4 linked regions of the Homo sapiens genome follow. The protein of the gene in region 2 binds, or shares a complex with, the protein of the main gene of each other region. Each region holds a gene or a part of one and is shown on either strand. Other genes may lie near its edges. A codon is read from its position in the direction of its gene.

The links.
Region 1: SF3B1 (region 2) and HTATSF1 share a complex: the UniProt entries of both Homo sapiens proteins name them as parts of the 17S U2 SnRNP complex.
Region 3: the proteins of SF3B1 (region 2) and DDX42 are in contact, whole or in part, in a cryo-EM structure (PDB 7EVN), measured with the Homo sapiens proteins. Residues at the interface, in NP_036565.2 of Homo sapiens: Pro509, Pro510, Lys513, Arg517, Thr520, Asp557, Arg558, Tyr561, Lys562, Asp565, Leu566, Arg568, Pro569, Ile583, Ala607, Ile610, Ser611, Arg614, Glu622, Arg625, Asn626, Arg630, Pro646, Phe647, Ala650, Val651, Lys653, Ser654, Lys655, Lys656; in NP_031398.2 of Homo sapiens: Asn68, Glu71, Glu72, Tyr75, Phe76, Glu77, Asp78, Glu79, Glu80, Glu81, Asp114, Pro115, Leu116, Glu117, Phe119, Met120, Val123, Ala127, Asp130, Met131, Arg133, Leu134, Gly146, Ile147, Arg148, Ile151, Glu152, Glu153, Glu154, Asp155.
Region 4: the proteins of SF3B1 (region 2) and U2AF2 are in contact, whole or in part, in a crystal structure (PDB 7SN6), measured with the Homo sapiens proteins. Residues at the interface, in NP_036565.2 of Homo sapiens: Ser336, Arg337, Trp338, Asp339, Thr341, Pro342, Ala343, Met346; in NP_009210.1 of Homo sapiens: Met383, Glu388, Glu394, Glu397, Ile398, Asp401, Val402, Glu405, Gln447 (codon at 1,981), Gly448 (codon at 1,984), Leu449 (codon at 1,987), Thr450 (codon at 1,990), Gly451 (codon at 1,993), Arg452 (codon at 1,996), Lys453 (codon at 1,999), Phe454 (codon at 2,002), Ala455 (codon at 2,005), Val459 (codon at 2,017).

The regions. Positions count from the first base shown.
Region 1 is NC_000023.11:136,500,557-136,507,593, forward strand, and holds part of HTATSF1 (17S U2 SnRNP complex component HTATSF1), read left to right. Parts: intron 1-107; coding exon 108-262; intron 263-2,221; coding exon 2,222-2,385; intron 2,386-3,807; coding exon 3,808-3,907; intron 3,908-7,037. UniProt on the Homo sapiens protein: Component of the 17S U2 SnRNP complex of the spliceosome, a large ribonucleoprotein complex that removes introns from transcribed pre-mRNAs.
Region 2 is NC_000002.12:197,425,005-197,432,041, forward strand, and holds part of SF3B1 (splicing factor 3B subunit 1), read right to left. Parts: intron 1-7,037. UniProt on the Homo sapiens protein: Component of the 17S U2 SnRNP complex of the spliceosome, a large ribonucleoprotein complex that removes introns from transcribed pre-mRNAs.
Region 3 is NC_000017.11:63,805,169-63,812,205, reverse strand, and holds part of DDX42 (ATP-dependent RNA helicase DDX42), read right to left. Parts: coding exon 7,031-7,037; intron 5,672-7,030; coding exon 5,552-5,671; intron 4,483-5,551; coding exon 4,306-4,482; intron 3,387-4,305; coding exon 3,258-3,386; intron 2,647-3,257; coding exon 2,547-2,646; intron 1,694-2,546; coding exon 1,646-1,693; intron 1,131-1,645; coding exon 1,033-1,130; intron 275-1,032; coding exon 1-274. UniProt on the Homo sapiens protein: ATP-dependent RNA helicase that binds to partially double-stranded RNAs (dsRNAs) in order to unwind RNA secondary structures. Unwinding is promoted in the presence of single-strand binding proteins.
Region 4 is NC_000019.10:55,671,999-55,675,217, forward strand, and holds the end of U2AF2 (splicing factor U2AF 65 kDa subunit), read left to right. Parts: intron 1-1,935; coding exon 1,936-2,070; 3' UTR 2,071-2,718; downstream 2,719-3,219. UniProt on the Homo sapiens protein: Plays a role in pre-mRNA splicing and 3'-end processing. By recruiting PRPF19 and the PRP19C/Prp19 complex/NTC/Nineteen complex to the RNA polymerase II C-terminal domain (CTD), and thereby pre-mRNA, may couple transcription to splicing.

The sequences.
Region 1 (7,037 bases), on a different chromosome or scaffold from region 2:
AATCAACATTGCATTCACCTAAGTTATAGATTTCTAATTGGTAGAATGCTAAGTAATTCACCTTCATTATCAATTATAAATGTTTTTTAATTTTTCTTAAATGACAGGTTTGCCTCCAGATATTACAGTGGATGAATTTATACAACTTATGTCCAAGTTTGGCATTATTATGAGAGATCCTCAGACAGAAGAATTTAAGGTCAAACTTTACAAAGATAATCAAGGAAATCTTAAAGGAGACGGTCTTTGCTGTTATTTGAAAGTAAGTTGTATGATCAAATAAGTTTCTTGTATCTTCGTTTTTAACTCAGGAACCAGGGCTATAATTTCTATAGATGATAACCAACACCAAGAACTGTTCAAAACAGGATATGAAGAAAACTGAAATTTCAGTTAGTACCTGTGTGTATCACATTGGTAAGATTATTCACTTGTTTTAAGAAAATATGTTATCAGGTAAAAGTATTATATAAGTATGCGACTGGAGTGCTTCTTCTGTCTTGAAAAATTCTCACTAGAAAGATTTTTTTATTGATGTGTACAGTCAATTCAGACTACATTTTAAAAATTCAAGAAGAAAAAAAGCCAGTAACATTTTAGTTGTCCATTGGAATGAATTACACCAGGGTTCAGCAAACTCGGGCTCTGTTTTGGTAAATACAGCTTTATGGAACACAGCCACACTAATTCATTTATGCATTTGTCTATGGTTGCCTTTGTGTTTCACTGATAGGGTTGAGTGGTTGCAGCACAGACCTTGTGGCCTACAAAGCCTAAAATATTTACGAACTGGCCCTTTAACAAAAGGATTTTTCTGACCCTTGAATTAGACCATGAAGGAGACGATAGCTTATTCTTACTGCTTTAAAATATTTTTTTGAATGTGAGAAAAGAGAGAGTGGTATTAAGAGAAATTTGCAGAACTTCATGTAGTCATAGTACCATAAATTACACAAAGAAACCTCAATGCCAGAGGCAGCCATCATTTCTGGAACACCTGCCACCTTAGGAGCATGTGTTATACATTATCACAGGGTACAGAACAAATGATGACATGTACATAAGTCAAACCTGGAAATAATTACAGAGTAAAGTCAAAATGGTAAAGCAAAAGTACAAACACCACAGGTGTGTTGTGAGTATACAGTATTCCAGTGAGATCAGAAGAGAGTAGGATTAAGCTGACAGCTTTTTGGGAAATAGGTTTTTGACCTGAATCTTAAACGTGATGGTTATGGGACATGAGCATGACCATTTTAGGATGGTAGTTTTGTAATGTTCAAATGTAAGGAGATTTGAGGGTTTTATAAGTTCTTTAAGGATTATTAAAAAATCTGCGAACAGATTCTTAGGGAGTTCTGTTAGATTTTTTAAATTTTTAAAGGAAAAAAATTGAGTTTTGAGACCCATAGAAGTACAAGATTGTCAAAACAGTAAATTGAGTTCCAGGAAAATATAGTGAATTATTCCAGGACCCATATATGTGAGCAGCTGAGTTCAGTTATCCATTTTTCTTTTCTACAGGTCCTCTGATCTTTGACTCTGTTTGTATAGGGCTGATAACTGTCCTTTCTCTAAGACCTGGAATCCATACATGTATTTAATATAAAGTACAAGTCATCAGATAATTGTCTTCTACTTCTCAGTGTATTACAGACTCACAATTTAATGGATGAACCAAAAAATTAAAGGCTGTCTATGGTGTTCCCAATTCCTTGAGTCATCTAGTCTTTTAAGTAAGAGTATTATAGAATTTTAAAAGAAATACACCTTAGAAATCATGCAGATTTGCTCCCTTCATTCTGCAAATGAGAAATTGTGGCCTCAAGAGACAAAATTACCCAATAATAATATTTATTGAACACCTACCATATGTTAGTCCTTATCCTTTCCATGCATTATTTCATTTAATTTTGTCAAGAACCTTGTGATGAAGGTATTAACTATTTCCATTCTACATACGACGATATTGGGGCTCAGGAAGCTTGAATAATTTACCCAAGTTCACACAGCCGGTTAGGGACAGCTGTGTCTCAGATGCGGGTTTCCTGGTTCAGATTCTAGAGTTCTTTATCTCAAAGAGAGAACGAGATCTCGTATATTCATAATATATAAATATAAGAATTTAAATTATTTTATGTATAATCATCGTTCATCTAAAAAACTCCTGAAGTTTTATTTCGTTGTATAACTGACTATATTTTGTCTTACATTTATAAAGAGAGAATCTGTGGAACTTGCATTAAAACTTTTGGATGAAGATGAAATTAGAGGCTACAAATTACATGTTGAGGTGGCAAAGTTTCAACTGAAGGGAGAATATGATGCCTCAAAGAAGAAGAAGAAGTGCAAAGACTATAAGAAGAAGCTGTCTATGCAACAAAAGTTTGTAATTTTTTTCCCTTTTGAAAGGTTCCATATATTCTAGAGTATATTTTTGGTAATAGCCATCTAGTTTTATTCTGTCAAGTGTGCCTACACATTATTTTAAAATAATTTCATTAGCTCATCAGGTACCTTTAGCAATCTATACAATAGGTTTAGATTTAGCAGTGGTGGGGATTTTAATTTTCCAGAGTGTCTATTTGTAATATAATAAGGGCTTAAATGAGCTAAGAGAAGCCATCTGTTTGGAAAACGTTGAACATCAAATTAAATAAGATAGTTTAGGCTTATGTACCAGAACCGTTTACTTCTGTGTGGATTGAAATCAGTGGTACCAGGAGCTAAATTTTTCTATACAGGTTTGTTATAGGAATTAGAAATGACAGGATTTTATAATTGTATTTACTGTAGTTGTATGTAGTATATACATAATGTCATCAAGTTTCTATTATTATTCTGTTTGTTTAATATACTTTGAAATATACTAGTTTTAAGAAATTAGTCAAAATGATAAATACTTTTATCAGAGTAAATTCTAATGACACTTCTAACACCATGCTTAAACTAATTAAATATCATAAAAGCATTTAGTTGTGATGTCTCATTGTTTTTACAAGTGTAGGTAAAATTGATAACCACATATTTTTTAAACAATATCAGTAAAATTTATGATTGTAACAGAGTTGAGTAGTTTTATGTATTTGAGTGCAGTTTGTTTTTTATAATGATAAAGTACCTAAAAACCAATACAATTTAAATATATTTTTTAGCCTCAAGGTATATCTTTCTGAACTCATAAATACTAAGAATTAGAGATTTTTCAAGGGTCTCATTGGAATGTTTGTATAATCAGACAACAGTTGCCCTGAAAAACATTTCATCTGGGGATTTCAGATACTGGGATCATTTTGCCTCTGCCTTTTATTTTATTTTATTTTATTTATTTGAGGCAAGAGTCTCACTCTGTCACACAGGCTGGAGTGCAGGGGTGCAATGTTGGCTCACTGCAACCTGTACCTCCGGGGTTCAAGCTATACTCATGCCTCAGCCTCCCCAGTAGCTGGGATTACAGACGTGCACCACCACGCCTGGCTGATTTTTGTATTTTTAGTAGAGATGGGGTTTCACCATGTTGGCCAGGCTGGTCTTGAACTCCTGGCCTCAAGTGATCCGCCCGCCTCGGCCTCCCAAAGTGCTGGGATTATAGGTATGAGCCACCGCACACGGCCCCCTGCCCATTATTTTTATTTCAGAAAGTTTTCTGACTGGAACTATGACTGAAATACAGTTTGTTGTTGTAAAATCCAGTAATTATCTTTATTAAATACTCAGTAAAGTATTGTATGAACAACTCATTCTTTTCTCTCTCCAACAAGTCTGAAGCAAAATTTACAGTTTGTTGTTACTGCTTCATTGCCTCAGGCAGTTGGATTGGAGACCTGAGAGGCGAGCCGGACCATCCCGGATGCGCCATGAGCGAGTTGTCATCATCAAGAATATGTTTCATCCTATGGATTTTGAGGTAGGAAGTGGTGTGCTTACTGATAGAAATGCTGATAGGCTTTTTTTCTCTCAAGGGAGCCTGGAGCTTGCCTCGCCTCATCTTTGTCTTGTCACCTCCTACGTGTTTGTGCAGCGAGTAGTAAAGGAAGATGGAGCCAAGAAGCTACTTAAGTCTTTTGATTTCCCTTCCCTTTGTTTAGCCCAGTATTGTTTTAAAGTGTATCACAGATAAGACTGTTTAATAACCATACTGCGCCCCAAGCAGCAGCTACTTGGTATGGGAAACCATTGAAAAATATCATCATCAAAAGATTTATGGGAACTGCTTGTGGATTTTCAGTGCAAGCCAACAAGTATGGCCTGATTTTGGTGGGGAGTACCAGCTTCACAATTGTAAATGCAAACTTCAGTTTGGTACTAAAAGTTATAATATTTAATGTCCGTGGAAAATTCCAAGAACAGCAAGTAAAAGTGAATAAGTACATCTGTTATGTATCAACTTTTTTAAGTGATTTTAAAAAAAGTTAATGGAACTGTCCTTCCTCCCCTCAAAAAAGTGAATAAAGGAGAAGCAAAGAACAAGGAGTTCTGAGGAATATTGTCATCAAAGTACCTTGTGTTACATTCTGCCTGTATTCTTATCTCTGTCTACTGGTGTAGACTGACTTTATTGTTGTGGAGAAACAACTCTTTATTCTCTCCCTGGTTCTGAAATTAGTGATAGCAAGTTATACAGAAAGCAGGTTATACAGATAGCAAGTTATACAGAGAAAAATGTTCATAACGTAAAATTCCGTTTTTACCAATAATCTAGTTGTAAATTAGTGCCCATTCCTGACCCTTTTGTGCATTTAAACAGTCAAAATGGTAATATAATTGTAGCTCCCTTAGAGAGGGCCCCAAAATGGACAGTTCAGCTCTATCTCAATGAATAGTGTTGTGATAAGGTTTACTGTGTACCTATGGAGTTTGGGCATCTTTTGAGGTCATTGGAAATATACGTCTGGTTTATTTATGAGATTGATTGATATCTCTTCTGACTAGAAATCTGGAAGAATTTTGAAATATAACAGTTTACAGTTTTACAGTTGCAGTGATAATGAAGTATGGTTTATAAACACGTGCACACCAGATGCATTTTGAAATACTGTTTTTGCCAGCAATAACTTTAAAATGAATGCATAGAATTACAAAAATATTAGCTGGGCATGGTGGCGCATACCTGTAATCCCAGCTACTCAGGAGGCTGATTCAGGAGAATCACCTGAACCCGGTAGGCAGAGGTTATGGTAAGATCGCGCCACTGCACTCCAGCCTGGGCAACGGAGCGAGACTCCATCTCAAAACAAAACAAAATAAAACAAAACAAAGAACCAGATCATAGTCATTAAAGCAGCATATAAAATAAATGCACAGATTGATCACAATATTTAGTCTGCTAAATACAACTCCGGGATTTCCTATTATTTATTACATTTTATCCCCCTGCTAAATAAGTGATTTATTAGGTGACATATTTATTTCTGTGACTCGAGGTCTTTGATTCACACATTTCATACTCCTGCCACCCAAGTGTGAATGTAAATGCAAACCTAATTCAAACTATCTGGAACCTCTGCAAGTAGAAGTCTGTTGTGTAATTTTAATCTATTCTTGTTTCTACCTCCTGCCTTGCTCATTGAAATACCTTATTTGAGTCTAAGGATCACCCCAGGCAGACTTAGCTCTTCCCAGCTTAACAAATATTCTTTCCCCAAAACCACATTTATTCTACCTTGACCCCTATACATTCCCTCCAGTGAATATTTTTAAAGATAGAAGTTTCATGCTTGCAAATTCCTGATTTTTTTTTTAATCTTCTTGGTTTAGTATAAACATTACTTTGGAGTTACAGAGCCTTTATACTACCCTATTTTGTTTCCTTCATAGCATTTATTATTATCTGAAGTAATTTTGACTCGTCTACTAGAATGTGAGCTCCATGACACCCAGTATTTTGTCTACCTTGTTTGCTGCTGTATTCTCAGTACATAGAATTTGCCTGGCACACAGTTGGCCCTTAATATTTATGTGATGAAGAATTGAAAGAATTGCTAAATGAAACCCTTGTTATTTACAAGCCAGAGTCTTTTCATTCAGCCAGTGGATAAAACATTTTCTCTTCAGCATCTTTGCAAATGAAAGCAAATTTTCTTCTTAGATGCTTATTCCACAAAGGATGGTGGGACATTGTCTTGGCCGTGGCGGAATTAGTTCACAAAGAAATGCTTGGTGATGCTATCCTTGTTTGCCCACCTTCCTGGCCTCACATGGTCCAACTAGCTTGCTGAGAGCGTGTCAACAAGAAGAGTGACAAATAATCTTGCTTTTGTTCACTGTCTCTGAGCACCTGAACCTCAGTGTAGACCTGTGCTGTCAGATATGGTAGACTGTAGCCATGTGTGGTTAAATGTAAGTTAATTAAAATGAAATAAAATTCAGTTCATCGCTTCTACTAGGCACATGTAGCTAGTAGCTACCATATTGGATAATGCAGATATACAACATTTTCATTATCACAGAACCTTCTATTGGACAACACTGGTATAGACATTATATAACTTTTGATAGAAGTGTCCAACAGGAAAACCTGCTTTTATTGCATGTTTTGGGGGAGTGTTTGATTTGACTCAAGACTCCATATGAACCTAAAGAACACACAGCAGCATTGAGCTTTTTAGTGGAAAACAAAAACTGAATTGTCAGGTTATCCTGAGATATCTGAAAGGAGTCAGATTTTGGGTGGAGGGGTATATTTTGATTCCAAACAGTTAGAAGCAACATACCTAAGAATACTGTCTGATCTGAAGGCTAACATTTTTAATGTAACTTCAGAGGGTCTTCAGTATTTAATTCAAATCCTTACTTTAAAATGCATTGCCTGGCAAATTTGAATACCAGGACATGAAGAGTCAAAACTCAAATGCATTAGCCGGGCATGATAGCACGCACCTGTAATCCCAGCTACTTGGAAGGCTGAGGCACGAGGATCACTTGAATCCGGGAGGCAGAGGCTGCAGTGAGCCAAGATCGCGCCACTGCACTCCAGCCTGGGCAACAGAGTAAGACTCTGTCTTCAAAAAAAAAAAAGAAAGAAAGCAAAGCACTGA
Region 2 (7,037 bases):
CAAAGTTAGCCAGGTGTAATGGCGCACGCCTCTAGTCCCAGCTACTCAGGAGGCTGAGGCAGAACTGCTTGAACCCGGGAGGCCAAGGCTGCAGTGAGCCGAGATCACGTGCCACTGCACTTTAGCCTGGGCAAAGAGCAAAACTCATCTCAAATAAATAAATAAATGAATAAAAATTAGGCCGGGCGCAGTGGCTCACACCTGCAATCCCAGCACTTCGGGAGGCCGAGGTGGGCAGATCACCTGAGGTCAGGAGTTCAAGACCAGCCTGGCCAATGTGCTAAAACCCCGTCTCTACTAAAAATACAAAAATTAGCCGGGCATGGTGGCAGGCGCCTGTAATCCCAGCTACTCGGGAGGCTGAGGCAGGAGAATCACATGAACCCGGAAGGTGGAGGTTGCAGTAAGTCGAGATCACGCCATTGCACTCCAGCCTGGGCGACAAGAGCGAAACTCCGTCTCAAAAAATAAATAGATAAATAAATCAAATAAAAAATAAAAAAGCTCAATTGCTAGCTGCATGAATCAAAAGATAAAGATTCAAATAGCATCCTGTATTTGCAAAACCTCCCACCCCCCCAGCTAAGGGAGAAAGCCCTCTATAGTTCCTCAAGATAGATGTGCAGGATAACAAAATGTCCTTATCTAGTCTAAGGCACGGCTGGGTCACATTTCCACATAAGAAAGGAACAGGAGCACGTCTCACAAACTGGAGGCAGACGCGGTAGCTCACGCATGTCATCCAAACACTTTGGAAGGCTGAGGTGGGCGGATCACTTGAGCCCAGGAGTTCAAAACCAGCCTGGGCGACATGGCAAAACCCTATCTCTACAAAAAATACTAAAATTAGCCAGGTATGGTGGCAAACCTATAGTCCCCTGCCACTTAGGGGGCTCAGGTGGGAGGACTGTTTGAGCCCAGGAGGTCAAGGCTGCAGTAAGCCACGATTGCTGCCACTGCACTCCAGCCTGGATGAGAGAGAGACTGTCTCAGAAACAAACAGAAAGAAAGAAACTCAAAATGATAGAATAGTTTTAATGCTGAGTTTAGCAGCCCCAGTTGTGATCGGATCTCAAAATTATTATAGTGTGTTGTGTTACACAGCACCACTACATGCACAGATGTTACTTTGTCCCCAAACCATTATAGCAGCCCAGGCAGCCAGAAATATCCTCACATGAGCAGGGTGGTTCTTTTTACTATGATCTCTACTTTTGTTTCTGTTTGTAGTTTCATATTTTGAAAAATTTAATCTACATTTGCCCCACTCCCACCCCCTTCGGGCATCTTCTTTTCTTTTCTTTTTTTGAGGCGGAGTTTTGCTCTTGTTGCCCAGGCTGGAGTGCAGTGGCTGGATCTCGGCTCACTGCAACCTCCGCCTCCCAGGTTCAAGCCATTCTCCTGCCTCAGCCTCCCAAATAGTTGGGATTATAGATGCCCACCACCACGCCCAGCTTCAGGCTTTTTTTTTAAACCACAGGTGCATTTATCACTTTTACCTAAATAGGTTTTTGTAAAAGGACCACAAATGCTACTTCCATGAGGATTTAGGTAAGAAACAAATGGATGAATCAGGAGAAATAGTCTGCAATCTCCTCTACAGCATTAGTCTAGTATAAGGACCACCTACAAAGAAATGACCTGGTGCACCTGTTACAAAGGTAGAACCTTAGGTCTTGGATACACTAACTCTGAAACTCCAACTCAGGCTGTGAAGCCCAGGATTCTGCATCATTAACAAACACCCTAGGAAACTATTTTACCTGGCCCTTCACCCCTCCCATTTCCAACCCCAGCCCACCCCTACCAAATTTTCCAATTTAGAGCATCATTTTATACTTTTCTCTACCTCATACACAACTAAAAAACAGGAAAGGGGTGCTGTTTTATAAAAACTGCACACTACACATATTGTGCAACTTGCTTTTTCCCCCTTATCAGGCATCTCTCTTATTTTCCATCTAAACAACTTTTCCATCCTGAAGTTTCAGCAACTAGTTTCTCATTTGGATAACACTTATTCTGGAACTAATTTCAGCTACTGAATTTTAACTATTGATTTTATGTACCTGCTGATTAGCATCAGAGTTTTCCAATTACAAAGGTTCATAAAGTACTGAAATAGTGTTGGTATGAAATCTATGTAAATCATGACTAGGTTCTTATTAAAATTTAGTAACAAAATTACCCAGCCCAAAATCTCCTGGGGCTAGGCAGCTGTTTGTAGTTAATTAATCCTAAGGTGAGTATATTACTGAACTTCTTATAGGCAGTACAATTAAATGTTTATATGCAAATCAGGCATTGTTTTCTGTCTGCTGGAAACTATAGATATAAAGTCCAAACAGCTTAATGGGCTTTGTTAACACACTGCAAACTGCAGCACATTTACACATACACCATGTGATCCATAAAATTAAGCCGTCAGATTCCATAAAACTCAGCAGCTTATTATGCAATTCAGAGAACTAAAAACTCAGAAATTTCTTAATAAACTATGTGCTAAAATACCAAATATAACATACCCAAATATTTATGAGCAAACAAATTATTACCATGACATTCATAAATAAGGTAACTTTGTGTCTGAGGTTTCGTTTTCAAAATAAATAAAAAGGTGGGAAAAAATACGGCAGAAAATGAAGAACTGATAAAGCTGAGCAGTGGGTTAGTGTTCATTATATTTTGTCCTATTCTCTTCTGCATGTTAAAATATTTCATAAAAGGTAATCTGGGCCGGGCATGGTGGCTCACGCCTGTAATCCCAGCACTTTGGGAGGCCGAGGCGGGTGGATCACGAGGTCAGGAGTTCAGGATCAGCCTGGCCAAGATGGTGAAACCCCATCTCTACTAAAAATATAAAAATTAGCCAGGTGTGGTGGTGGGTGCCTGGAATCCCAGCTACTCAGGAGGCTGAGTCAGAGAATTGCTTGAACCCAAGAGGCAGAGGATGCAGTGAGCCGAGATCGCACCACTGCACTCCAACCTAGGCGACAGAGCAAGACTCCGTCTCAAATTAATTAATTAATTAATTAATTAATTAAAAGGTAATGAGGCTGGGCACTTTGGGATGCCCAGGCAGGCAGATCACTTGAGTTCACAAGTTCAAGGCCAGCCTAAGCAACATGATGAAACCCTGTCTCTACAAAAATTAGACAAAAATACAAAAATTAGTCACTACAGGTGCACACCTGTAGTCCCAGATACTCAGGAGGCTGAGGTCAGAGGATGGCTTGAGCCCAGGAGGCGGAGGTTGCAGTGAGCTGAGATCACACCACTGCACTCTAGCCTGGGTGTTAGAGCCAGGCCTTGCCTCTAAATAAGTAAGTAAATAAATAAATAGGTAATCTGTAGAAGTAATTAAAAGTAATTTTCCAAATTTTTCTCTCCCCTATCCATGCCAGCCAAGGTTTGTAAAATTCCACTTCAAATTTTTTATCTCTGGGAATAACAATGTTGTCTCTAACTCCGTATTTTCAAAACCAACACTAAGTTACAGCCTGGTGTGTAAGTATTCCTATAATTTCTTAAATATAAACTGACTAAAAATATGCAAATAGATCATTTCTGACAACAAATGATCAATGCATAAAACTGCTTGGCAACTGGCTGAGCGCGGTGGCTCACGCCTGTAATCCCAGCACTTTGGGAAGTCAAGACAGTTGAATCACTTGAGATCAGGAGTTCAAAGCCGGCCTGGCCAACATGGTGAAACCCTGTCTTCACTAAAAATACAAAAATTAGCCAGACATGGTGGTGGCACGCCTGTAATCCCAGCTACTTGGAAGGCTGAGGCATGAGAATCGCTTGAACCTGGGAGGTGGAGGTTGCAGTGAGCCGAGATCACAGCACTGCACTCTGGCCTGGGCAACAAGAGAATCGCTTGAGTCTGGGAGGCAGAGGTTGCAGTGAGCCAAGATCACGCCACTGCACTCCAGCCCGGACGACACAGTGAAACTCCATCTCAAAAAAAAAAGGCGGGGGTTGGCAACTATGAAAATAAAAAATGAGAGAACATACCAAAATGAGTAACCAGAGGTCAAAAACAATGAAGACTTGAGGCAAAGAAACGTCTATGCTAATAATCTCTTCCAACTTCAATTATGACCAAAATGAACAAATCCTGTTCCAGCCTAATCCCTTCCCAGTTTGGACTCATAGTTCAATACATTCAGATGTGAAGACAAAGAAAAAAGGGATACTGTCTGCTAGTGACTGAGCAAGAAGAGACTAGGACTTCCTATTGGCCACACAAAACTGCCAAAAGCTGGCACTCTTTAACCCATTTAAACCCTTAAATATTCCAATTTCCACACTGTTGTGCACATCAATAGTTTCTGCCTTTTTATTACTGGGTAGTATTCCATTGTACTACAGTGTGTTTATCCATTCTCTAGCTGAAGTACATCGAGCTGTTTGCAGTGATTACAAGTAAGGCTACTGTAAACATTTGTTTAGAGGTTTTTGTGTCAAGACAGGTTTTAATAACACTAAGGCAGGCCGGCACGGTGGCTCACGCCTGTAATCCCAGCACTTTGGGAGGCCGATGTGGATGGATCACCTGAGGTCAGGAGTTCGAGACCAGTCTGGCCAATGTGGTGAAACCCCATCTCTACTAAAAATACAAAAATTAGCTGGGTGTGATGGCGCGCGTCTGTAGTCCCAGCTACTCGGGAGGCTGAGGCAGAAGTATCGCTTGAACCCGGGAGGCGGAGCTTGCAGTGAGCCGACATTGTGCGACTGCACTCCAGCCTGGACAACAGAGCAAGACTCTGTCTCAAAAAAAAAAAAAAAAATTTCCTTCCCATGACTAGCACAATCTAAACCTGAAGTATGATTTCAGAACTATGCTCATACTTAGAGCCAATAATTTTCTGGGTGCTTCCATTGCTTGTAGGCCCCCTAACATCTTGATTGCAGCAGTAATGGGAAGGAGGGAACCAGTTTAGACAGCCACTTTCCCCAATTCCTCCAGACTGTGCGAAACCACAGGACAAAGGTTCTGCAACAAATGAAGTGCAAGGAAAAAGAAAGAGACAGGAGGAACCTATGAACTGAAAAAGATTTAAGAGATAAATCATTAAATCACAATGTACTGTGAAATGAAAAAGATATAAGAGAAACCAACCAATCAAAATGTTATCAGTTTTCTTGGAAGCCTGACTGAAACTGAAAAACAAAGTTTAAAAGAATGGGTAAAACAGAACAGTGACTAGATATTTTATTATTTTAATTTTAGGTGTAATCATGGTATTATCTTTTTAAGTCCCTACACAGAAATACATACTGAAATATTTATGGATAAAGTGGTATGTCTAAGATCTGCTTCAAAATAATGGGAAGAGTAGAAGTGACCAGTGTACAAATTAAACAAAGCTGGCCTAAGCTTGTAACTGTTGAAGCTAGGTGATGAGTATATGAGGGGTTCATTTTACTACTCACGGTAGTTTTTTTTGTTATTTTGTTTTGAGACAAAGTCTCACTCTGTTGCCCAAACTGAAGTGCAGTGGCACGATCTCGGCTCACTGCAACCTCCACCTCCTGGTTCAAGAGATTCTCCTGCCTGAGGCTCCCAAGCAGGTGGGATTACAGGCACGCACCACCAAACCCAGCTAATTTTTTTATTTTTAGTAGAGATAGGGTTTCACCATGTTGATCAAGCTGGTCTCAAACTCCTGACCTCTGGTGATCCATCCACATCAGCCTCCCAAAGTGCTGGGATTACAGGCGTAAGCCACCGTGCCCAGCCTACCCTAGTGTTATTAAAACCTGTCTTCACACACTGTGCCCGGCCTGTTGTTTTGTTTTTCTGAGACAGAGTCCTGCTCTGTTGCCCAGGCTGGAGTATAGCGCCAGCCGCTCTCTACTTTTCTGTATGTTTGCAGTCTCAAGCAATCCTCCTGTCTTGACTTCCCAAAATGCTGGGATTACATGCGTGAGCAACCCCTGGCCTCCTGTATTTTAAAACTCAGACCTACATATCAAGCTCTTGAGAAAAACAATTCATATCACTGATAGCAGAAGGTCACATCTGATAAAACTATTTAACTGCTCCCCACCAATTCTGTCCCTCTGATTTCCCCTCCTGTGCCTTTTCTTCTTTTTTTTTTTTTTTTTTTTTTTTTTGAGACAGAGTTTCACTCAGTCGCCCAGGCTGGAGTGCAGTGGCGTGGCGTGATCTCAGCTCACTGCAACCTTCGCCTCCTGGGTTCAAGCGATTCTCCTGCAACAGCCTCCCGAGGAGCTGGGATCACAGGCTCACGCCACCATGCCCGGTTAATTTTTTTGTACTTTTAGTAGAGAGGGGGTTTCACCACGTTGGCCAGGCTGGTCTGGAACTCCTAACCTTGGGTGATCTGCCCACCTCAGCCTCCCAAAGTGCTGGGATTATAGGTGTGAGACACCATGCCCAGCCCTTTTCTTCTTTCTAAGCCTTAGATCCTGCTAAACCCAACTTGTAGCACTTCTTCCTCCTTGATTTTTATTTTTCATTTTTCGTCTGAATTATTTTCAGTGTTCTAATCACTGCTCATTACATGTTACACAGATACTGCCCTCAGATGTTAATGTCTCACCTACACCTTTCAGTCTGGTCCCTAAGTGATATCTACTCTCCTTCAGCCAGATATAACCGGTGAACAACTATTTCCAAAATACAAGGCTTCTAAAAGACATCACAGAAAAACAGGAAGTATATTCTGAATCCCAACCCTCAGCTTTTTCATTAAACAAAACTCCAATAGGACAACTAACTATAATATAAATCATTTTACTGAACACTACAAACAATACTGATAAATTGATTCCTAAATGATTAATTCTATTAAAAAAAATTTCAAGGCCAGGCATCGTGGCTCACACCTGTAATCCTAGCACGGTGGGAGGCCAAGGCAGGACTGCTTGAGCCCAGGAGTTCGAGATCAGCCTGGGTAACATAGCGAGACCCCATCTCTAAAAAAAAATTGTAAAAATTAGCCAGGCATGGTAGCACACGCCTGTAGTTGTAGCTACTCAGGAGGCTGAAATGGGAGGATCAC
Region 3 (7,037 bases), on a different chromosome or scaffold from region 2:
CAACATCTGTGGCCACCAGGACTGGGATGTCCTTTTTCTTAAAGTCTGAAATGACCTTGTTTCTCTCACTCTGATCCATATCCCCATGGAGCAGCCCAAGATTATGACCCTCCTGTTTAAGGTTATTCGCTAGCTCTTCAGCATTGGCTTTTTTAGTAACAAAGAGGAGGACACTCCCTGAAGAGGTAAATTCTACCAGACGCCGGGTAAGCCAGTTCCATTTACTAGGTCCAGAATGGAGAATCTCCACAATCTGTGTCACATCTTCATTTGCCTGAGAAGGAAGAAATGAAACAGATGATTGTGACATTGGAGCCACAGGGCACCTGAACAAGGACTAGGCATTATATTTCTACCTGCATCGAGAAGACCTTGAACAATCCCAGTTCTCCTTGGGCCTTCAGCAAGTCAAGTGCAGCTCAAAACTCACCTCTCCTTTCCAATCACCTTGCTCTCCACCTGGTGTACATACCTAATTTGTATGCCCCACTACTTTGTAGAGCTTTCCTTAACAATAACCATGGCAAGCAACTGAAGGATTCTCTAAGCAGCCATAACTGAATTCCAAGTCCCAATTCAGAGTAATTTTTCACATAGCGCATATGTACAGGTAAGAAATGAAACCTGATTTTTTCCAGGCCTTCCAGGTCACCCTTTCCCTCCTGCGTAGGCCCCTACCACAATAATTAAAACGTCAGTTCCAACCTAATACGCTGATGCTTCCAGGCACATCTTTTTGTCTCTTTGAAGCCTTTTTAAAACAATTGTAAGTTTTGAGACATTCAATAAAACAAAAAAAACACAAAATGAACAAAATCAACTCATACCCATCACCTAGCTTCAATGATTCCCAACATTTTGCCAGTCTTGTTACGTCTATCCCCACAACTTGCAAAATACCCAATCTCAAGCATGTTGCATCTATAAACATAACATCTTTTTTTTTTATCTCAATAGTGAGAAATTAATTCTGTGTTCCATAATATGAGAAATAAACCCATTAAGGTCCCATCCAGCCCTGCTTAGGGTTACCTCTCCAATATCTCCCTGCACCACTCGAATAGGGTCGATCAGGATGTCTCTGGCCAACTTTTCAATCTTCTTCCGAAAAGTTGCACTAAATAAGAGAGCTAAAAGGTAAGATAAATTCTGTTAGAGAAACAATATGATATCTTTATGCATACCCATTAAGCTTCTTTGGCATTCAGGATTATTCAGTTTTTTTACATAAGCTCACCTGAACTTTAAATTTAGTTTAGAAACTGATTCACTAGGGAAAGATTTGCTCTTATTCTATTTTTATTACATTTTTAGTTAAGACAAGTTGTCAGTATGGTTCAGAAAAAGACTCTTGATTTCAAATCAGCAGATCTGTACTGTACACTGCTTCTACCCACTGATAAAACTGTATAATTTAGGGCAGTTTATTTAATTTCTGATCCTTGGTTTTATCATCTATAAAAAGGAACAAGTTATATCTAGTGCTAAGATCCTGTCCAGCTCAGATAAACTCATTACCTCCCTTATTATGGTTCTCACCAACAGACACAAGATCATTTTTACTTCCATAACTCTGAGTGCTTATAAAATAAATAAGTGCCCTTTTTAGTACAAATTTGGTTTAACAAAGGTGCTTCATACATACTCTGCCTGTCAGGACGAACATGACTTGCTATGGATCGAACTTGGTACTCTGCAAGAAACAGAACAATAAAATTATTATAACCTGAAATACAGTTTGGGAAGCCTGGAAAAAGCCATATTAGTAAAAGTCTTCATAAGAAGTTGTAAGAATTAAGAAAATTAGAAACCCCAGGCCAGGCACAGTGGCTCATGCCTGTAATCCTAGCACTTTCGGAGGCCGAAGCAGGCGGATCACTTGAGGTCAGGAGTTCGCAGCCTGGTCAACACAGCTATCTCTACTAAAAATACCAAAAAAAAAAAAAAAAAAAAATAGCCAGGCTGTGGGGTAGGTGCCTATCACCCCAACTACTCAGGAGGCTGAGGCAGAAGAATCGCTTGAAACTGGAAGGAGGAAGTTGCAGTGAGATCGCACCGCTGCACTGCAGCCTGGGCAACAAAAGCAAAACTCTGTCTCAAGAAAAAAGAAGCTCCTAAACATATCATTCAGCATAAAAGTGAAAAATTTTCCCTCCATCCAACTGGGCTAGGTCTAGCAGTGTTCCAATCAGTAAAGACAGCTACGAGGATAGGAAAGCAAAGGGCCTCGAATGATCTGACATTCATCTACCCAAGAACACAGACCTTAACCTCTATGATCAAAGGCATATGGATAAAAATGAAGACAGAGAAAATATTCCCCTTATATACAAAGGCACTTTGAAATTTCCTCAACCCAATAAAACCTAACATACTTTTCCAGAGAAAACTCCTAAAAATGTTCATCTTAGCTATATTTCTATAGTCTAACCCCATCCAGGAGTATTTTTAGCTTCTCTCATGCTGAAAAAACAGTCTAGAAAGACATGGAAAAAAAACTAGTATCATGAGGATGGGGACAGAAGAAACTGGTATTCAAGGCATACCAAATCCCATGTCAAACATTCGATCTGCTTCATCAAACACAAGGTAAGAGACTCTTTGAAGATTGGTAGCTTTCTTTTTCACATGATCTATCAGTCGACCCTATAAGATCAACAAAATGAACAGTAAGTATAATTAAAGGCATTCACAGGGACTTTCTAAGCAGTTGCACTCCTGGCAAAAGTGCTAATTCTCTAGTCTCAGACTGTAATAGATACTGGTCCAACAGCCACATACCTTATGCACTACTTAGCTCAAAGGAACAGAAATTTTGAAAACTCAATCGGCATCTTCATTTACACTGTGATTTAAATTCTGTGGGAAAGTGGCCAGAAGCAGTTTTTGAGGCATTCTAAAGTGACCTGATTTAAAGCATAATGACAGGTTTCAATGTTTAAACTACACTCTTCTAGGCTATTCTGACCATATGTATCTTTCTGATTCTTGATGAACTTGGCAATCATTTTGTGGGAGAGTATAAGAAAAACTATTTGACATAGAGGGGAATTTGTAGCTACTAGCCTATATGTCACAGAGACTCTCACTGAACTGCTAATTTAGCCACCAATCAAAATTAAAACCACAGCCTGCCGTTCATCAGTATATTTTCAACCCTGCTTTTACCACACTTTAGGGGAAATTCTCTGCAAAACTAATCATGTTTTCCATACCGAGGGAGGCTGAGAAGCCATTTAAACACAAGGCATACTTACTGGGGTACACACAACAATCTCTGCCCCCTCCTGAAGGGCCTTGGCCTGCTCCCACATACTCCCTCCTCCATATACGGCCACTGATCGAAGATTATATGCTTTTCCAAACCGCTTACATTCTGCATGGATCTACAAAGTTGTGAATAATATATTAACAAACTGTGACACTAACAAATACCTGTCACAACCCAAACGAAGTTCTGAAAAACAGAATGTGATGTCATAAAAAATCGAAACCTAGAACATACTTTAAAACCACGATTTTATTCATAAAGGTATAAATGAATGGAATACCATTATTGCATCTCAACAGATTATCTAAAATCTTTTATTCATTTTACCCCCTTCTCTTCCTGATCCTGTCACTGCTTTTCTACCAAGATAAAATGAACTCATCCTACAGAAAAACTGTCAGCTTATAATACAAACAATCCCCATATCACAATAGGCTTTTCCTCTTAAAAAAAGTAGTTCTGGCCGGGCACAGTGGCTCACACCTGTAATCCCAGCACTGTGGGAGGCCAAGGCAAGCAGATCACTTGAGGTCAGGAGTTTGAGACCAGCCTGGCCAACATGGTGAAACCCCGTCTCTACTAAAAATAAAAAAATTAGCCAGGTGTGGTGGCGTGTGCCCGTGATCCCAGCCTCTCGGCTGAGGCAGGAGAATTGCTTGAAACTGGGAGGTGGAGGTTGCAGTGAGCTGAGATCACACCACTGCACTCCAGCCTGGGCAAAAGAGTGAGACTCTGTCTCAAAAAAAGCAAATAAATAAAAATAAATAAAAACAGTAGTTTTTAGGGGAAAATATGTATTTGGTTATATAGAAAATATTTAACACATAATACTTTCCAAAAGTTTCCTGGTAGCACAACACTGTGAATATACTTAATGCCACTGAACTGTACATTAAAAATGGTTAAGATAATCAATTTTGTGTGTATCTTATCACAATTAAAAAAAAAAGTTTCCTGGTCATTCTACCTCACTTGACTGGCTGGTCCCTTGCTAGTCCACATATGGAAGGAGGCATTCTATAGAAAGCACATACCTGCTGGCAAAGCTCCCTGGTAGGACACACAATCACTGCAATTGGTCCATCACCTGGTTCCAACTCCTTCTGGTCCATTATATGAATCAACATGGGCCAAATGAAGGCTGCAGTTTTCCCACTACCTGTTTTGGCAATACCAATCATGTCTCTACCACTTAATGCCACAGGCACACCCTGGAGAAAAAGTAAAATATAACCACTCTAAAATTTCAATTCTAAAGATGTACTGAAGCAAATCCTGGGGAATGATAAATGACTACTAACATTTTTATTTGCAATGGAACAAAACATACCTGGTGCTATGCATACTGGTTGTGAAATAGAAATATCAATATCCAACATTCTCATTAACTTCTTGATTTATAGGAAATGACATCATTCTCATTACGTGGATATCAGCCACCACTTACAGAACAGAAACAACTCCATTTTGTTTAAAATACAGAAATGAAAAATCAAGGCCGGGCAGTGGCTCACGCCTGTAATCCCAGCACTTTGGGAGGCCGAGGTGGGCAGGTTCCCTGAGCTCAGGAGCTCGAGACCAGCCTGGGCAACACGGTGAAACCCTATCTCAACTAAAATACAAAAAATTAGCCAGGTGTGCTGGCGTGCGCCTGTAATCCCACCTACTTGGGAGGCCGAGGCAGGAGAATTGCTTGAACCTGGGAGGCAGAGATTGCAGTGAGCCAAGATCGCGCCACTGCACTCCAGCTTGGACAACAGAGTGAGACTCTGTCCCCAAAAAAAACAAAAACAAAAACAAAACAGAAAAATTGCAATTTATAATGAAGGGTTGCTAAAATTTTAAAAATTTTCCCCCCTTAAGAAGGTACAGACTATCTCATTCATATACAGAAAATGAGAATGTTCTGCATAAGAATAAATAAATCCCATATATAAATGGGAAAAAGAAGCTAAAACTTTCAGTAATGAATGAGAATTTTCAAGTGACGAACGAAGGAATTCTAGTCATTGACAGTGCTAAATTTGTCTATATACGAACCTTTTTGGTTAGGTTTAGGCCTAATAAATTATTTTCTTCATATCATATTTTCAACATACGTATCAGATACAAAAGAATATTTGTCAGCCATTTAGTGACTTCTTAAGAGTGATAAATACCTCTATCCTTATCAACAAGGTTCTACACTAAACACTGTTTTACTGCTGTGATTTGTTTTTAAATTAATATAGTCATGAAAGACTACCCTACTTTATTTTTCTTTCATTATGTTTTACTTACCTGGCACTGTATTGGAGTGGGCTGTGTGTATTCAGATTTCCGAATCTGGTGCATAAGTTGTTCGTCAAACCCAAAATGAGCAAAGCTACTTCCTGGTCTAGGAGGTGCAGCACCAGAGACCTAGAGATAGAGACAACTCCCCAGAATGACTTGTACTTCAACATTAACAGCATTTGAAGTTCAACAATACTTACCTGGATCTAGCATTTTAGCTGGAGTATGAAGTAAAAATACAAGTCTGTAAGCCAAAATCATACAATGAAAAGGAAAAACCTCAAATGGTAACAAATATAAACCTCATATTAAAAACTCCATGATAAATATTCCCAAGATAATTGTCATACAATTTTAAATGATTAAAAATTTCTTAACTCAAAATTAATTTTCTCATAACAAATAAAACGGAAAAAAAATTGTTCAATGAATTGGGAAGCCATAACTGTTCTTTTGCCATTTTGCATTAAGTATTAACCAGATGGTAGAAAAAAATTAATGTATCTTACTCTTGAAATGAAAATTCCAAGTGGGCTCCAAATAAGACAAGTCTACACATGCTGGCTACCAAGATATAATCTACTGCCTCCATTTTCAGTTATGCTTGATGAATTAAAGTCTCACTTAGTGATGGTCCAGCCACTGTCAAGCCCTGTTCAAACTGCACCTAGGTGAAGAATGGGGCTTATAATCTCCATTTTGTCCCCCAAAGTGGTAACCTTTCAATGCTTCTCTGGTGATGTTGATATTTCCAATCAGGATTTCAGGGGTTTTACTTAAAATTTTTCTTGGGTCACTGGGGAGATGAGTAACCTCTTGGAAAACAGACAAGTGTACACACACAAATACACACCCCTCCTGGAAAACAGGAGTTTAAACATCGTGTAGCAACTGATAAGGTGCACACAGGCGAGAAAGTTGTCTATATTAGAGTAGATAGCATAGCATATTTTTTCTGTGTGTTTCATTTACCATCTATCAGCACCTTAAACCAATGTAGCCAATGTGCAGCCCAAAACTTTCTGGTAGGCAGTTTAAACCATTCTGAAATTAGTACATGCATATTTTTAAAAGGTATTAGTTTATTCTAATTTTTAAAATAAAGCATACTATATGTAATTTGACAGACAAGTTTATCTTCATTTCAAAATATTCTAAGATATCATCTGTTAACATCTATTCCTTTTGTTTCCTCTTCCTTTAGATGGGGACTCCCACCCTTCATCACTAGCCCATCCAGCACAGAACATATAAAACTGACTGAAATATGAAACAAGAAAATGATCCTATCCTAAAACAGCATCTAGAAGACTAAAACAATCAAATTAAGAGACATGAACAGAAGGGATATAATAATTACTCTGGCAAAGACAGTTCAGAGACCATTAGAAAAGAAATTCAAGGTTATTAGTTTAGATAACCAATAATACTAAATCTGGACTAATTAACATTAATATTAAGAATATTGAGCTTAATGATGCTTACCCGAAGA
Region 4 (3,219 bases), on a different chromosome or scaffold from region 2:
CGTGCCTGTAATCCCAGCTACTCAGGAGTCTGAGGCAGGAGAATTACTTGAACCCGGGAGGCGGAGGTTGCAGTGAGCCAAGATTACGCCACTGCACTCCAGCCTGGGTGACAGAGCAAGACATGGTCTCAGAAAAAAAAAAAAAAAATTACTGCATTGTATTGTTTTATTCTTAAATTTTTTGTTACATGTCTTTTCAAATATACTTAAAAGTAGGGACTATGATAGTGATACGTTTTTATCATAGTATATGTGCTAATATTTTGGTGTTCCTTCATCTGGCTTCAAGTTACCAATATTTTGTCATTCTTAATTTTCATATTCAGCTTATTTCTCCCCCCTCCTTTTTCTTTGCTGGATTATTTTAAGGCTTATCAGGTTTATTTCACCTGAGATCCTTAAGTATATTTCTATTATTTCTCAATTAACATTTTGGGTCAGATAACTTCTCTGTGGGGGCCTTTGCTGTGCGTTGTAGGATATTGAGATGTATCCCCAGCCTCCACCCACCGGATGCAAGAGCACTACTCCCTGCTGAGACACCCAAAAGCATCTCCAAAGATTGCTCAGTGTTCCCTGGGGACACCCCCCCTCCTCCAGTTGACAACCACTGCTCTAACCAGATAACCTTAAAAAATTGTTTTGTTTTTTTAACAAAACCACAATAGCATGATTAGATTAGCGAAATTCCTTAGTGCCTATTCCATGTTCAAATTTTTCTATCTCAAGAATTTTTTTTTTTTTTTTTGAGACAGAGTCTCGCTGTTGCCCAGGCTGGAGTGCAGTGTGCCCGCCACCACACCTGGTTAATTTTTTTTGTATTTTTAATAGAGACAGGGTTTCACCGTGTTAGCCAGGATGGTCTCGATCTCCTGACTTTGTGAGCCGCCCGTCTTGGCCTCCCAAAGTACTGGGATTACAGGCGTGAGCCACCGCGCCCGGCCAATAATTTTTTTTTTTTTGAGACGGAGCCTCACTCTGTCACCCAGGCTGGAGTGCAGTGGCGCAATCTCGGCTCACTGCATCCTTCACCTCCCGAGTTAAAGAAGAGTAGCTGGGACAGGCACCCGCCATCATGTCTGGCTAATTTTTGTATTTTTGGTAGAGATGGGGTTTCGCTATGTTGGCCATGCTGGTCTTGAACTCCTGACCTCAGGTGATCCATCTGCCTCAGCCTCCCAAAGTACTGGGATTACAGGCGTGAGCCACTGTGCCCAGCCGAGGATATTTTTTATAGTTTGTTTCAGTAAGGATCCATATCAGGTCCCTGCCTTGAATTTGGTTACAAAGTTTGTGTAATTTATCCTTTGTACCTCACTCCCTCTTTTTTTTTTTTGCAAGCTCTTTTATTTGTAGAAGAAATAAGTTCATCTGCTATATAGAATTTTCAGTGTTCGTGTAGGCTCATTGTATCCTTCCCTCCCTCCATTTTCCTGTAAATTGGTTTAAGCAAGGTTAGAAGCTCGAATAGATCAAGGTTCAAGTTTTTAAATTTTATTCAACCTGGGTTTGAATCCTAATTTCTGAGCTTCCCTTAGTTCACTTATTGTTGGGAGAACATGGCTGTTGGGGTGGTTCTGGGAGCGCCCACCATGGTGGCTCGTGTGGAGTAGACACTCAGCACGAGGGACCCCTCCCCCGCGGTGAGCTCGTCTAGGCCTCCCGCCTGCGCTCTATGGCTCTGCTGAGTTTCTGGCATGTCTCTATTCTTTCTCCCTCTCCATGCCTATGGTGTGTTTATGCTCTTGTTTTTTGATCCTGGAGAATATTTGGGTGAACTCCACCAAACCTGCTTACTAAGGGTCCCTTTCTGACACCTGTGGCGAAGCCCCCTCCTCCCTGTCCCTTCCTGCCTTCAGTGCTGGGGTTGGGTGGACGCTGACTGGCTGTTGGGCGTGAGCCTTGTTCACAAACCTGCCTCTCCTTTCCCCACAGATCTTTGTGGAGTTCACCTCTGTGTTTGACTGCCAGAAAGCCATGCAGGGCCTGACGGGCCGCAAGTTCGCCAACAGAGTGGTTGTCACAAAATACTGTGACCCCGACTCTTATCACCGCCGGGACTTCTGGTAGAGGCGGCTGGGGGAGGGTGGGGGCAGGGCTGGCTGGGGGCTTCTCCCCACTCCCGCCCCCCCCTTATCCCCCTCTGAAGACGATGGGCAGAGGAGTGACAGCCGCAGACACACGACAGCCGGCAGCAACTGGAATGGCAGCAATTAAGGGTGGGGGGCGGGGGTTGGGGGGTTGGGGGGTTAGGGCAGGGAGGGGACTGGGGAAGTGCGCACACAGCCCACACAGACAACACGCACCCACACAGACACAGAGGGAAGGGGTTGGGATGGGGACAGGGTGCACAGCAGGGCGGGGTAGGACCCCAGCCCCTCCCAAAACAGCCTCTCCTTCTCCCATAGACCCCTTTCTTCTCCCCTTCCCCACGGTAGGAACATAGCGTGTTTATATTTTATGGCCAAACTATTTTGAATTTTGTTGTCCGGCCCTCAGTGCCCTGCCCTCTCCCTTACCAGGACCACAGCTCTGTTCCTTCGGCCTCTGGTCCTCTCTGGTCCCCTCCTGGGTTTCTTACGTAGTTGATTTTTCCTCTTTAGTCTCCCCCGACCTGCGCCCAGCCCCGTGGCCCCTGCCCCTCTCCTACTCTCTGTGGCAGTTTCATATTTGCTAAGACGAATTTGCTCATTAAACATTTTGTTGTATTTTACTTTATGGAGCGGCTGTGTGTCCAGTATGTCCGACCCTCTTCCTCGGTTCTGGGCTCGGGTGGGGGTTCCCTTGGCAAACTGCGGGCCCCTGGCTGGGACGCCCCTGCTGCCGGCGCCGGCAGCCTCGAGGCCTTCCCTGCTTGCGCGGTGCCCTTCTCGGGGTCGGCACAGGCACAGCCCCGGGGGACGTGAGGTTCCCGAGTGCTCTCCCACCCCGCCGACAGGAGGGATGGTGGCCGAGCGGGCCGGGGCGGGCGTGGCGTGGGTGTGCCAGGAGCTCCGCGGTTGCCGCCAAGCGAGCTGGAGCTGACTCTCGGCGTTCCGTGAGCACCGCGCGGATCCCCCGCTGCAGCGGGCGGAAGTGACGTAGAGGCGCCTAGCAACGGGGCCCAGCGCGCCGGAAGTGATGCCTTCCAGGTTGGCTTGGCTGCGGAAGCGACTCCTGCCAGGGCGGGGTGCGGCACGGGAGGGCGGGGAGCGCGGCAATTTCCGCTTCCGGTCCGTC